Linked DNA regions of Homo sapiens. The protein of the gene in region 1 interacts with the protein of each later gene in a pairwise test. Each region holds a gene or a part of one and is shown on either strand. Other genes may lie near its edges.

What was found.
Region 2: the proteins of TMBIM6 (region 1) and GJA8 interact in binary tests that used the Homo sapiens proteins (3 or more experiments, as listed by UniProt).
Region 3: the proteins of TMBIM6 (region 1) and TEX29 interact in binary tests that used the Homo sapiens proteins (3 or more experiments, as listed by UniProt).

The regions. Positions count from the first base shown.
Region 1 is NC_000012.12:49,744,541-49,748,192, reverse strand, and holds part of TMBIM6 (bax inhibitor 1), read right to left. Parts: exon of another isoform or gene 3,651-3,652; intron 1-3,650. UniProt on the Homo sapiens protein: Endoplasmic reticulum (ER)-resident protein that confers cellular protection as an anti-apoptotic protein by limiting multiple stress-inducing pathways surrounding the endoplasmic reticulum and mitochondria.
Region 2 is NC_000001.11:147,901,240-147,904,991, forward strand, and holds the start of GJA8 (gap junction alpha-8 protein), read left to right. Parts: upstream 1-1,555; 5' UTR 1,556-1,622; intron 1,623-3,752.
Region 3 is NC_000013.11:111,341,069-111,344,720, reverse strand, and holds the end of TEX29 (testis-expressed protein 29), read right to left. Parts: intron 1,966-3,652; coding exon 1,790-1,965; intron 639-1,789; coding exon 598-638; 3' UTR 473-597; downstream 1-472.

The DNA.
Region 1 (3,652 bases):
CGGTGGCTCACGCCTGTAATCCCAGCACTTTGGGAGGCAAAGGCAAGCAGATCATGAGGTCAGGAGTTGGAGACCAGCCTGGCCAACATGGTGAAACCCTGTCTCTACTAAAAATACAAAAATTAGCTGGGCGTGATGGCGGGCACCTATAGTCCCAGCTACTCAGGAGGCTGAGGCAGGAGAATCGCTTGAGCCAGGGAAGCGGAGGTTGCAGTGAACTGAGATCACGCCATTGCCCTCCACCATGGGTGACAGTGCGAGACTACGTGTAAAAAAAATTTAAAAATTAAAAAAAACACAACCATTCTCTTCAGTCCTATTCCCACACACCTAGGAGCTACAGTGAACATGAAACATGCTGAAGTAGCCAAAAGCTATGCAAAACAAAACTATCGTGGATTTAGTATGCGTTCTATGCAATGCTGGAGCCAAGACAGACTTTGCCTCAGTGTGTACAGCAACATTAAAACAGCAAGTCAAAGAAACACTGTTCGCACATTTAATTAAATATCAGTTTATGTTTTATTATGAAGACAATAAAGTCTCAAGGTTATGTTCACTTCCAAAAAACAAAAAAGGAAAAAGGCCATGCACAATGTCTCACACCTGTGAGCCCAGCACTTTGGGAAGCCAAGGTGGGAGGGTCGCTTGAGCCCAGGAGTTCCAGACCAACCTGGGCAACACAGCAAAACCTCATCTCTGCAAACAATTAAAAAATTAGCTGGGTGTGGTGGTGTGCGCCTGTTGTCCCAACTACTTGGGAGGCTGAGGAAGGAGAATTGCTTGAGCCCAGGAATTTCAGGCTGCAGTGAGCCATCATCATGTTGCTTCACTCCAGCCTGGTAACAGAGCAAAAATGTGTCACTGCACCCCAGCCTGGGCAACACAGCAAAACCGTTTTATAAAATTAAAACAAAAAAATTAGTTTGTCAATTACATGGTTCTTTCTTCCTGTTGTATAAATTCAACCATCCTGAACCTTGTTCCCACATATCTAGAAGGGACCAAATTGATACTTAGAAGAAAAATCCCATATAGTTTAAAAGAGGGGAAAGGGCTGGGCACGGTGGCTCATGCCTGTAATCCCAGCACTTTGGGATGCCTAAGTGGGTGGATCACCTGAGGTCACGAGATCGAGACCAACCTGGCCAACATGGTGACACCCAGTCTCTAGTAAAAAAATACAAAAATCAGCCAGATGTGGTGGTGGGCGCCTGTAATCCCAGCTACTCAGGAGGCTAGGGAAGGAAAATCGTTTGAACCCAGGAGGCAGAGTTTGCAGTGAGCCGAGATTGCGCTACTGCACTCCAGCCTGGGTGACAGAGCCAGACTCTGTCTCAAAAAAACAAAAACAAAAAAAGGAGGGGGAAGAACTGTTAGTAATTTGTCAGTAGTTTTTTTTCTTCTTCTTCTTCTTCTTCTGTGTTTTTGGCCAAGAAAGCTTTCCATTCATTAGTTTTTACTACTGAGTAATGTTCATACACTGTATAACCATGTCCCCTGCATAGTGGTTAAGACTGCCTGCTACTTCTGAATCCTAGTTATTTCCTTAGCAGTGGGACATGCAGCAAGCTGCTGGCACTTAACCTCACTGTACTTCAGTTTCACCTACCATGTGTAAAATACTAGTACATAACAATCCTTATTTCCTAAGGTTGCAGATTAGGTGAGATAATACAAATAAAGTTCTTAAAATAGCTCTTTGTACATAGAATGAGTTCAATACATGGTAACCATTGTTATTACTGGTGTACTAACATTGTTATTACTGGTGTACTCATTACTACAATATCTTCAGTAGATTATTCTCTTTTAAAAGTCTAGTTTTAGCCTGTAATCCCAGCACTTTGGGAGGCTGAGGCAGGCGGATCACTTGAGGTCAGGAGTTCGAGACCAGCCCAGCCAACACAATGAAACCCCATCTCTACTAAAAATACAAAAAATTAGCCAGGCGTGGTGGTGGGCGCCTATAATCCCAGCTACTTGGGAGGCTGAGGCAGGAGAATGGCTTGAACCCAGGAGGCGGAGGTTGCAGTGAGCCGAGATTGCACCACTGCACTCCAGCCTGGGCGACAGAGTGAGACTCTGTCTCAAAAAAGAAAAAAAAAAAAAGAGAGAAAAGAAAATTATAAACTGAAACATAAAGGCACTTGAAAAATCTCATTACTGGTAAAAGTATAGATGCTCGATTTACAATGAAGTTACATCCCAATAATCCCATTGTAAACTGAAAGTATCGTAATTTATGCACTTACTACATATAACCTACCAAACATTATAGCTTAAGCCTAGCCTACCTTACCTTAAATGTGCCCAGAACGCTTACATTAGTCTGAAGTTGGGCAAAACTATCTAACGCAAAGCCTACTTTATAATAAAGTGTTAAATATCTCATGTGAAAATATCATACCAGATATCCCTAGTCTGGGAAAAGATGGAAATTCTAAATGTGCTGGGTTTTTTTTTTTGAGACAGAGTCTCGCTCTGTTGCCCAGGCTGGAGTGCAGTGGCACGATCTCAGCTCACTGCAACCTCTGCCTCCTGGGTTCAAGTGATTATCATGCCTCAGCCTCCCAAGTAGCTGGGATTACAGGTGTGTGCCACCATGCCCAGCTAATTTTTGTATTTTAAGTAGATACAGGGTTTTGCCATGTTGGCCAGGCTGGTCTCAAACTCCTGACCTCAAGTGATCTGCCCACCTCGGCCTCCCAAAGTGCTGGGATTACAGGCATGAGCCACCATGCCTGGCCTGAAGTACAGTTTCTAGCAAACAGGTAGCACTTTTGCATCATTATAAAGTAAAAAATCATTAAGTCCAATCATCATAAATTGGGGCCCGTCTGTACTTTTGTTTAAATGGCATACCTTTCTTCTAGCACATTTATACTATCTCTCTTGTCCCACAGGGCCATGGACATTTTGAGACAGCCTAATAGCCACTAAGTGATAATCTGATATGGTAAAGGATTTGATGAAGTAAATGCGCAAAAGCTTGATGCTTTCCCTGCCACTCCCAGGAGGTAGGTCAGTTCAGTTTCGGAACCATCCAAGGAATTGTTTCATTCAACTAGGACCAAGCTTTGATCTTCCCAGGTGGACACCCTAGATGTCCCCGCCTCTCCCTTAACTTGGACCCAAATCCCTGGATTAGCTAATACTGAATCCATCTCCTCCAGGGGGCTGCCTCAAAACCAAACCAGTAACTGGAGATGAAATGCCTACTGCCTTCAGTAAATTATTTTTTGTACCAAACGTTGACACTACTTCATCTCCCTCTCTATAACGTTTGACAGATACTGAATCCTAAGAAGGCCCCAAAATCCTAAATACATAATCTTCTTCCAGTATAAACCAGTAATCCCTCCCTAATAACACCATATTTAGCCCAAATGGGGAGCACACATAAATTAAGACAAACAGCATACCCACTTCACCCTCACTGGTGAAGCTCCTTTTTCACGTGTTTTGGATTCCAGTTAATTGTGCAGAAACTTCTCACCCTGAGGGCAGAGCTTGCATCTGGTTCAGCTCAGCTATCCCCAAGATTTAAGCACTACAAAGTCTCTAGAGCAAATTTAGACCCTATTATCAGATCAAGAGTGCTGTAACCTCAAATCAACATTCCCCAGCTGGCTCAGAGTGGAACCTACCT
Region 2 (3,752 bases), on another chromosome or scaffold:
GGACGGGAGTGGGCCTCAGAGAGCATATGTCCATGCCCTCCAAGCATCATTCCTCATTAAGCCACATTAGAATTTAATCCAAGAGCCTCCTGGTGAGCAAAACCATCATATCCCCATTTAACAGATGAAGGCACTAAAGTCTAAAAATGTTAGCTGACATTGATTGAACTTCCGCTACTCAAAAGTATATGTAATTATAAGTGAAACGTGGTGAGAAAGGCTATTACTTTGACAAATGGCACCAGAATTCTTTGGAGTGTTAAGGCTCCTTTCAAAGAGGGAGACCACCCTGCTGAAGGTTTGTTTGTGTTTCTTTTTTATTGTTTTGATCTTTTTAGAAAGCTCTTTCCTTTTATGTTTAGTTGACACATAATAATTGTACGTATTTGTGATACACAGTGATATTTCAATACATGTATACAATGTGTAATGATCAAATCAGGATAATTAGCATATTCAGCATCTCAAACATTTATCATTTCTTTCTGTTGGGAACAATCAAAATCCTCTCCTCTAGCTTTTTGAGACTATACAATAAAATAGTTAACGGCCAGGCATGGTCGCTCATGCTTGTAATCCCAGCATTTGGGGAGGCCAAGGCGGGCAGATCGCCTGAGGTCAGGAGTCTGAGGCCAGCCTGGCCAACATGGTGAAACCCCGTCTCTACTAAAAATAGAAAAAAAAAAATTAGCTGGGCGTGGTTGTGGGTGTCTGTTATCCCAGCTACTCAGGAGGCTGAGGCAGGAGAATAACTTGAACCTGAGAGGCAGAGGTTGCAGTGAGCTAAGATCGTGACATTGCACTCCAGCCTGGGTGGCAGAGCGAGACTCTGTCTCACACACACACAAAAATATAAAAATTAAAATAATTAATTAATTAATGTTAACCATATTCACCCTACAGCACTGCAGACCACCAGAACCCATTCCCCCTATCTAGCTGTGCTTTTGTATCTATTAGCAACATGCTCCCCATCCTTCCTTCCGCCACTACACTTCCCAGCCTCTAATATCCACAATTCTGCTGAAGGCTTTGAGAGACAAGAGCAAACCACCAATAAAAAATGAAATATGGTCCTTTGGAAAGGACCAACCACTCTTGGTGTGACTCAGGGCAGAGGGATTCACACAACTGACCACTTACTGTCCCTACATCATTAAGATTCTCCCAGCTGATGATAAGGCCTTGGGAAAATGCCCCTAGGCTCATGCGCTCTGGAGAGACGCCAAAGGTTTACTGATGTACAGGCCCAGTCTGCTGCTAAAAGAAACTTTGGGAGGCACAGAAGCCCCAGCTAAGCTTTCACACATCAGCTTTCCCCATCCTCCTCCCCTCAGTGCCCAACACAGCTCTCCCATTCTCTCACTCCCATTGTTTCCCAAACATCCCTCCCTTCATAAAAGCTGTCTGGCTGGGAGCTTAAAATATTGCTGGACAGTAAAACCTACCCATCAGGGCCAATCCAGTCATATCTGCTCAGTCGTGCAGCACAGTAGGGGCGGGGTAGAGAAGTGGGAGGTGGGCTTTTAGGCAGCAAAGGAAAGAGACGAAAGTTGCCATTTTGCTGCTGAGCGCCAAGAGAGAAAGAGCACATATTTCTCCGTGGGACACTCCTTGTATTGGCAAGTTTTCCTTGGGTGATATTAGTTTGTAACCTTCCCCCCAATTGTTCTTTCTCAGCCTAATCTAAGGGCCATATATAGGCTTCTCCAAAAGGAAAAAGGTTGCCAATAAGATTCAGTCTTGGGCTGGGATGGCTAGACTTACACTCCAACTCTGAAAACCCTCTTCAAGTTGACCTAAGAACTGGCAGAGGTTTGGAAGGGAGAGGAATGCTGGAATAATCAGCAGGATGGGGAAACAGAGATGTCCAAACTCAAACTACAATTTGACTTCTTAAGCTCTTTTCATGTCTACAGGAATCCACAGGGACCTAAACCAAGTATTTGATATTTATGAAAAAGTTTTGTGCCCTTTTCACTCAAATTCTACAATAGAAATAATAGTCATAATTACTGAATGCTGTGGGGGTAGCGGAGGCTTCGTGCTCAGCATTTTCCATGTTGGAGCATTTAATGGAGCACAGGAAGGGATCTGGCTAAGGACCATAAAATTCCTCCTAGGAGCAGGTTCTGTTGTCTATCTATGAGAACTGCTGGCTAGTGGCTGTTCTAGAAACTAGAAAAGAGGCACTTTCCACCTGGTTACCAACCAGAGTGGTAAGTGGCCATTGAACGCTTTGGATAACTTATTAATGGATGTATATGTGTTATTCTGCCTCTTCAAAACCAGAGGAGGGCTATGCTGTAATGGGCTTAGATCTAGAAGACCAGGGCTCACAGCCTAGCTCTGCCCTCACTAGCTAAGCCCCCATCTTGGAGACTCATTTCACCTCCCAGCCTGTCTTTTTGTCTGGTAATGGGGATTGATAATGCCAAGTTCACTGGTTCTCAGACATCCATCTGGGGATCTGTCAGTTCTAGCTCAAGATGAAGGTTTCCACAACCTGTGACCAAAATGTGACAATGATAAAGTTAACAATGTAGTAAATGTTTCACCAAGTTAAGTGTGTTCAATTTAAAGGCTTGTCTTTTATTCTGAAGTTATGTCCTCTCCAGTTTTGTGGTGTTAAAATCCCCTTTTATGAAATGATGATGAAAATAGACTGTAGTTGTAGTTAGTAATTTAATAACTCTTTTTTTTTTTTTTTGAGACAGAGTCTCGCTGTGTTGCCCAGGCTGGAGTGCAGTGGTGTGATCTCAGCTCACTGCAGCCTCCACCTCCTGGGCTCAAGCAATTCTCCTGCCCCAGCCTCCCAAGTAGCTGGGATTACAGGTGCCCCACCACCGTGCCCAGCTAATTTTTGTATTTTTAGTAGAGATAGGGTTTCACCCTGTTGGCCAGGCTGATCTTGAACTCCTGACCTCAAGTGATCCTCCCACCTCGGCCTCCCATAGTGCTGGGATTACAGGCATGAGTCACCACGCCCAGCCAATAACTCTTATTTTTATGTCCTTGTTTGGCAAAATAAGGAGTTGGTATCCTTATGTTGGTCACACTAGTTTGTTATTATTATACTAGTCTGTGAAATCTAAGTCTGAGAACCACTGGCCTAGTTCACAGCTTGTTATGAGGACTGAAATAAGATACGTGAAAATGTATCACTTAGATCAAGGATACCCAAACATAAGGTGTTATTTTAATCATTACCTCTAGCCATCATTTTCTGGTGGGATGTTCCTGGCCATATATGGACACCCTGGGGTTGGAGGCTTGAACTCTATCCATTTATTTTCCATCTGTAATAGGTCTGTTCACTAAATTTTCACAAGCAAAATAAAACAGAGAATTATCTCTGAGAAAGAGAAGAGAAATAGTCTTCCTTTGGTTCAGATTTCTCCCTGCTCCCACAGAACGCTTTGCTTCTCTGATCTGACTTCCTTTAAATTTTCACTGTTAGAAGTCAGGAAACCAATACATTTCCCTTCGCAGCTCTAAAGTGTCTCTCCTTAACAGCACAGTAGGCCTGTTTCAACATCATGGGGTTGGAAAGATTGTGTCCTAAATTACAGTTTCTCTCCTTCAGTTATCACAAGAAACTGTAACTAGACATTTAAAAAAAAATACAATCTTAGCATGGCGGCTTAGAGTATAGAAAGACATGGGCTTGTTTGGCTTTGGTTTCAAAATTACTAATGAGTGGTCAGGAACGACTTCTTGTGTCATGAACATGTATCATGACACTCTTGTCA
Region 3 (3,652 bases), on another chromosome or scaffold:
AGAATGCATATTTTTGAGGTGAGAAAACGGAGCCTCCAAGATCCGTGGGCTGCCCTGGGCCGGCCTGCGCGTGCCTGTGAGCATCTGTCGGCCACTCTGGGACTGAGCGCACTGCCTTGCATGAGGGGCTCTCAGGCAGCTACGGCCTATGCTTTGGGGCCTCTCAGATCCAGATCCAGACGCTGCTCCTCCCTCGCAGCACGGCTGAGTCCTAGCAAAGCCAAATGCCAGAGTCTTGAACCGCCTGTGTCTGTGTGGCAGCCCACTCTTGGTGAAAGTGCAGCCTGCCTTCTGAAAAGAAGACCTCGAGGACACCACCTTGAGCCCATGCTGTGAGCCCCCATAGTGTTAATATTAGTGACAAGCAGTGCCATTAAAAACTGAAAGTTCAGGTTCCCACTCTCCTACCCCACAGGCTTTCTCTCTCCTAAGATAAAAATATAGCAATGAATAAGCAACATCGGACGAGAAGCAATTTTCAAAATACCTTTATTTTTTTCTCTTTGGGTGGTCATTCCATCACACTGTTAACAGTGCACCTGCTGTACCATTTCATTTGGATAATTCTGACAATCTCCACTTCTTCATGCGTCTCAGTCAGTCCTCAGTTTCTTCGGCTTCTGTTATTGTCCCTGTTACTAGATTTTTAGAAAAGAAGAATTGTTTTTTCAAATGGAATATTCAGCAGTCCCGAAAAGATTTCATCAGGATCTTTGAACCCATCTACATGGTGTCTGATTGGCAATGATTGATTCAAAAGCCAGTTTTGGGGATGGCCGTATCCTCCTATGTTTCTCATTGCATTCTAGGGGACAGTAAAACACTCTTCCTCCCACATCATCTCTCTACACAGGAGGCTCCCTTAACCAGGCAAACATCTGTCCTGCAGGAAAGCCTCATTTGCACAGACGCAGCCTCAGTTAGGGGCCAGGCATTCCAGATCTGAAATCAAGTGTGGGTTGCCCTCTTACCCTGCCTCCTGATTTTCCTGATGGTCCCTGTAAAGCCAAGTCTATTTGGTAACAATGGGTAAGGCCAGGCCGTTTGTATCCTGTACAAACATCTCTGAAGATAAGGATTACCATTTGAGATGTTTCTTTCTCTAACCTGGCAAGGTGCTGATCTAGGAAAAGCAACCGGCAACCTCCAAGGGCCCCCAAAGCAGGTAAACCAACATATGAGAAACTTTCCTTCCTGGAAACCGAAGCAGGCATAGAGTGATCGTCCACCTCTCCAACCACGACCACCACGTGGCCAGGGCACCACAAAGAGTACCCACAGCAGCCCTGCAGCCTCCCCGCACATCCACGACCACCAGGCGGCCAGGGCACCACAGAGAATACCCACAGCAGCCTGGCAGCCTCCCTGCACAACCAAGACCACCACGTGGCCAGGGTGCCACAGAGAGTACCCATGGCAGCCCTGCAGCCTCCCCACAGGAAGTCACCTGATCAAATGTGCAGTTTCTGCAGGACTCTTGCCCCCTCCCCAGGAGCTTCCCACACTAACAATGAGGGCCCCGCCAGAGGGTGAAATGACAGGGAGGCAAAAGGGGATGGGAAGGGGGAGGACAAGACTCACAGAAGGAAACTCACACTGACAGCCACATCCACCCTGCAAACCTGAACCTCCAATGTTGGGTACATTACAATTTTGAACAAACTGCAACACTGATCACTGAGGTTGAAGGGCCTGTGTAGATGTTGAGCCCCTTCCCAGGGAAGGTCTCCCGAGGGAACAGAGCCACGCCCTTGACCTTAGGCTGAGGATCATTCCAGAAGCTTCTCACCATCATCCTTATCCTCGTCACTCTTCATCGAGGGCCCAGCACTTGGAGGCCCAGGACTCGCAGGCTTCAGCCCTAACTTGCTGCTGGATGAGGCCAACTCCGCCTTTTCGCTGGACTTCTGTGGCAGCGCGACATCCACAGGGATGGCCTTTTCTTTCCTGCTCTCCTGAATGACTCTGATGGGAAGAGGGTTTTATCACAGTCAGGGAAGTTACAGATGGAAAACTCTCCAGTTCCTCCCTCCCACCCACCAGGACATCCCTCTGAAAACACAGGTTCCTGATCATGCATACTTATTTTTTAAGGTAAATGCTTTGATGTAATAGTTCTCATTTTCGTTTCTTTCTCTCTCTCTTTTTTTTTTTTTTTTTTTTGAGACAGTTTTGATCTGTCATCCAGGCTGGAGTGCAATGGCACAAACACGGCTCACTGCAGCCTCCAACTCCCGGGCTCAAGTAATCCTCCCACCTCAGCCTCCCAAAGTGCTGGGAGATTACAAGTATGAGCCACCACATCCAGCCTCATTTTAGTTTCTTGTGCAGGCTCCAAACAGATGGCTGTATGAGGCAGCTAGACTCCCAAAGACAGCTCCGGGCAGGGGGAAGGTGTGTGTTGCACTGCAGGCTACTGCCGGCTCATCTTCATGATTAACACACATAAGACAGCATACAGCACCACTCATGGTAGGAAAATGGCTTTACTCATTCCTGGACAAAGAGACTCAAATAATCTCAGGGGCTTGTATGCACACAGAGTGGGCTCATGGTGAAGGTGGTGGCCGGGGAGTGAGATGCTGGATTCCAGCCCTGCCCTGGGAATAGCCACCTGCTTCCTTGGCCCCCCGGGTCTGCATTTCCTCACCATTAAAATGAGAGGGAGTGGACTCATCTCTGAGACACCTCCAAACCCTGACACCCTGCAATGAGGACGCAGGCCACAGGCCAAGAGATGCAGGCAGCCTTGGGTTCAGGGACTCTGAGACAACTGGGAGCCTGAGTTAGAGCCTCACTGCCCCATCCATCAGCCTCGGGACCCCCTCGATGCTGCGTCAATCATCCCAGTCCGGGGACAGTAAGTTCACTTACATCGTCAGTGGCTTCAAGGGCTGAAAAGGCTGAGCAGAGCTCTTAAGAGTCTTAGGTGCTCACTAAACACGGGTTATGATGTTCATCAACAAGCACAGGTGCTCACTAAACACGGGTTATGATTTTCATCAACAAGCACAGGTGCTCACTAAACACGGGTTATGATTTTCATCAACAAGCACAGGTGCTCACTAAACACGGGTTATGATTTTCATCAACAAGCACAGGTGCTCACTAAACACGGGTTATGATTTTCATCAACAAGCACAGGTGCTCACTAAACACGGGTTATGATTTTCATCAACAAGCACAGGTGCTCACTAAACACGGGTTATGATTTTCATCAACAAGCACAGGTGCTCACTAAACACGGGTTATGATTTTCATCAACAAGCACAGGTGCTCACTAAACACGGGTTATGATTTTCATCAACAAGCACAGGTGCTCACTAAACACGGGTTATGATTTTCATCAACAAGCACAGGTGCTCACTAAACATGGGTTATGATGTTCATCAACAAGCACAGGTGCTCACTAAACACGGGTTATGATGTTCATCAACAAGCACAGGTGCTCACTAAACACGGGTTATGATGTTCATCAACAAGCACAGGTGCTCACTAAACACGGGTTATGATGTTCATCAACAAGCACAGGTGCTCACTAAACACGGGTTATGATTTTCATCAACAAGCACAGGTGCTCACTAAACACGGGTTATGATTTTCATCAACAAGCACAGGTGCTCACTAAACAGGGGTTATGATTTTCATCAAC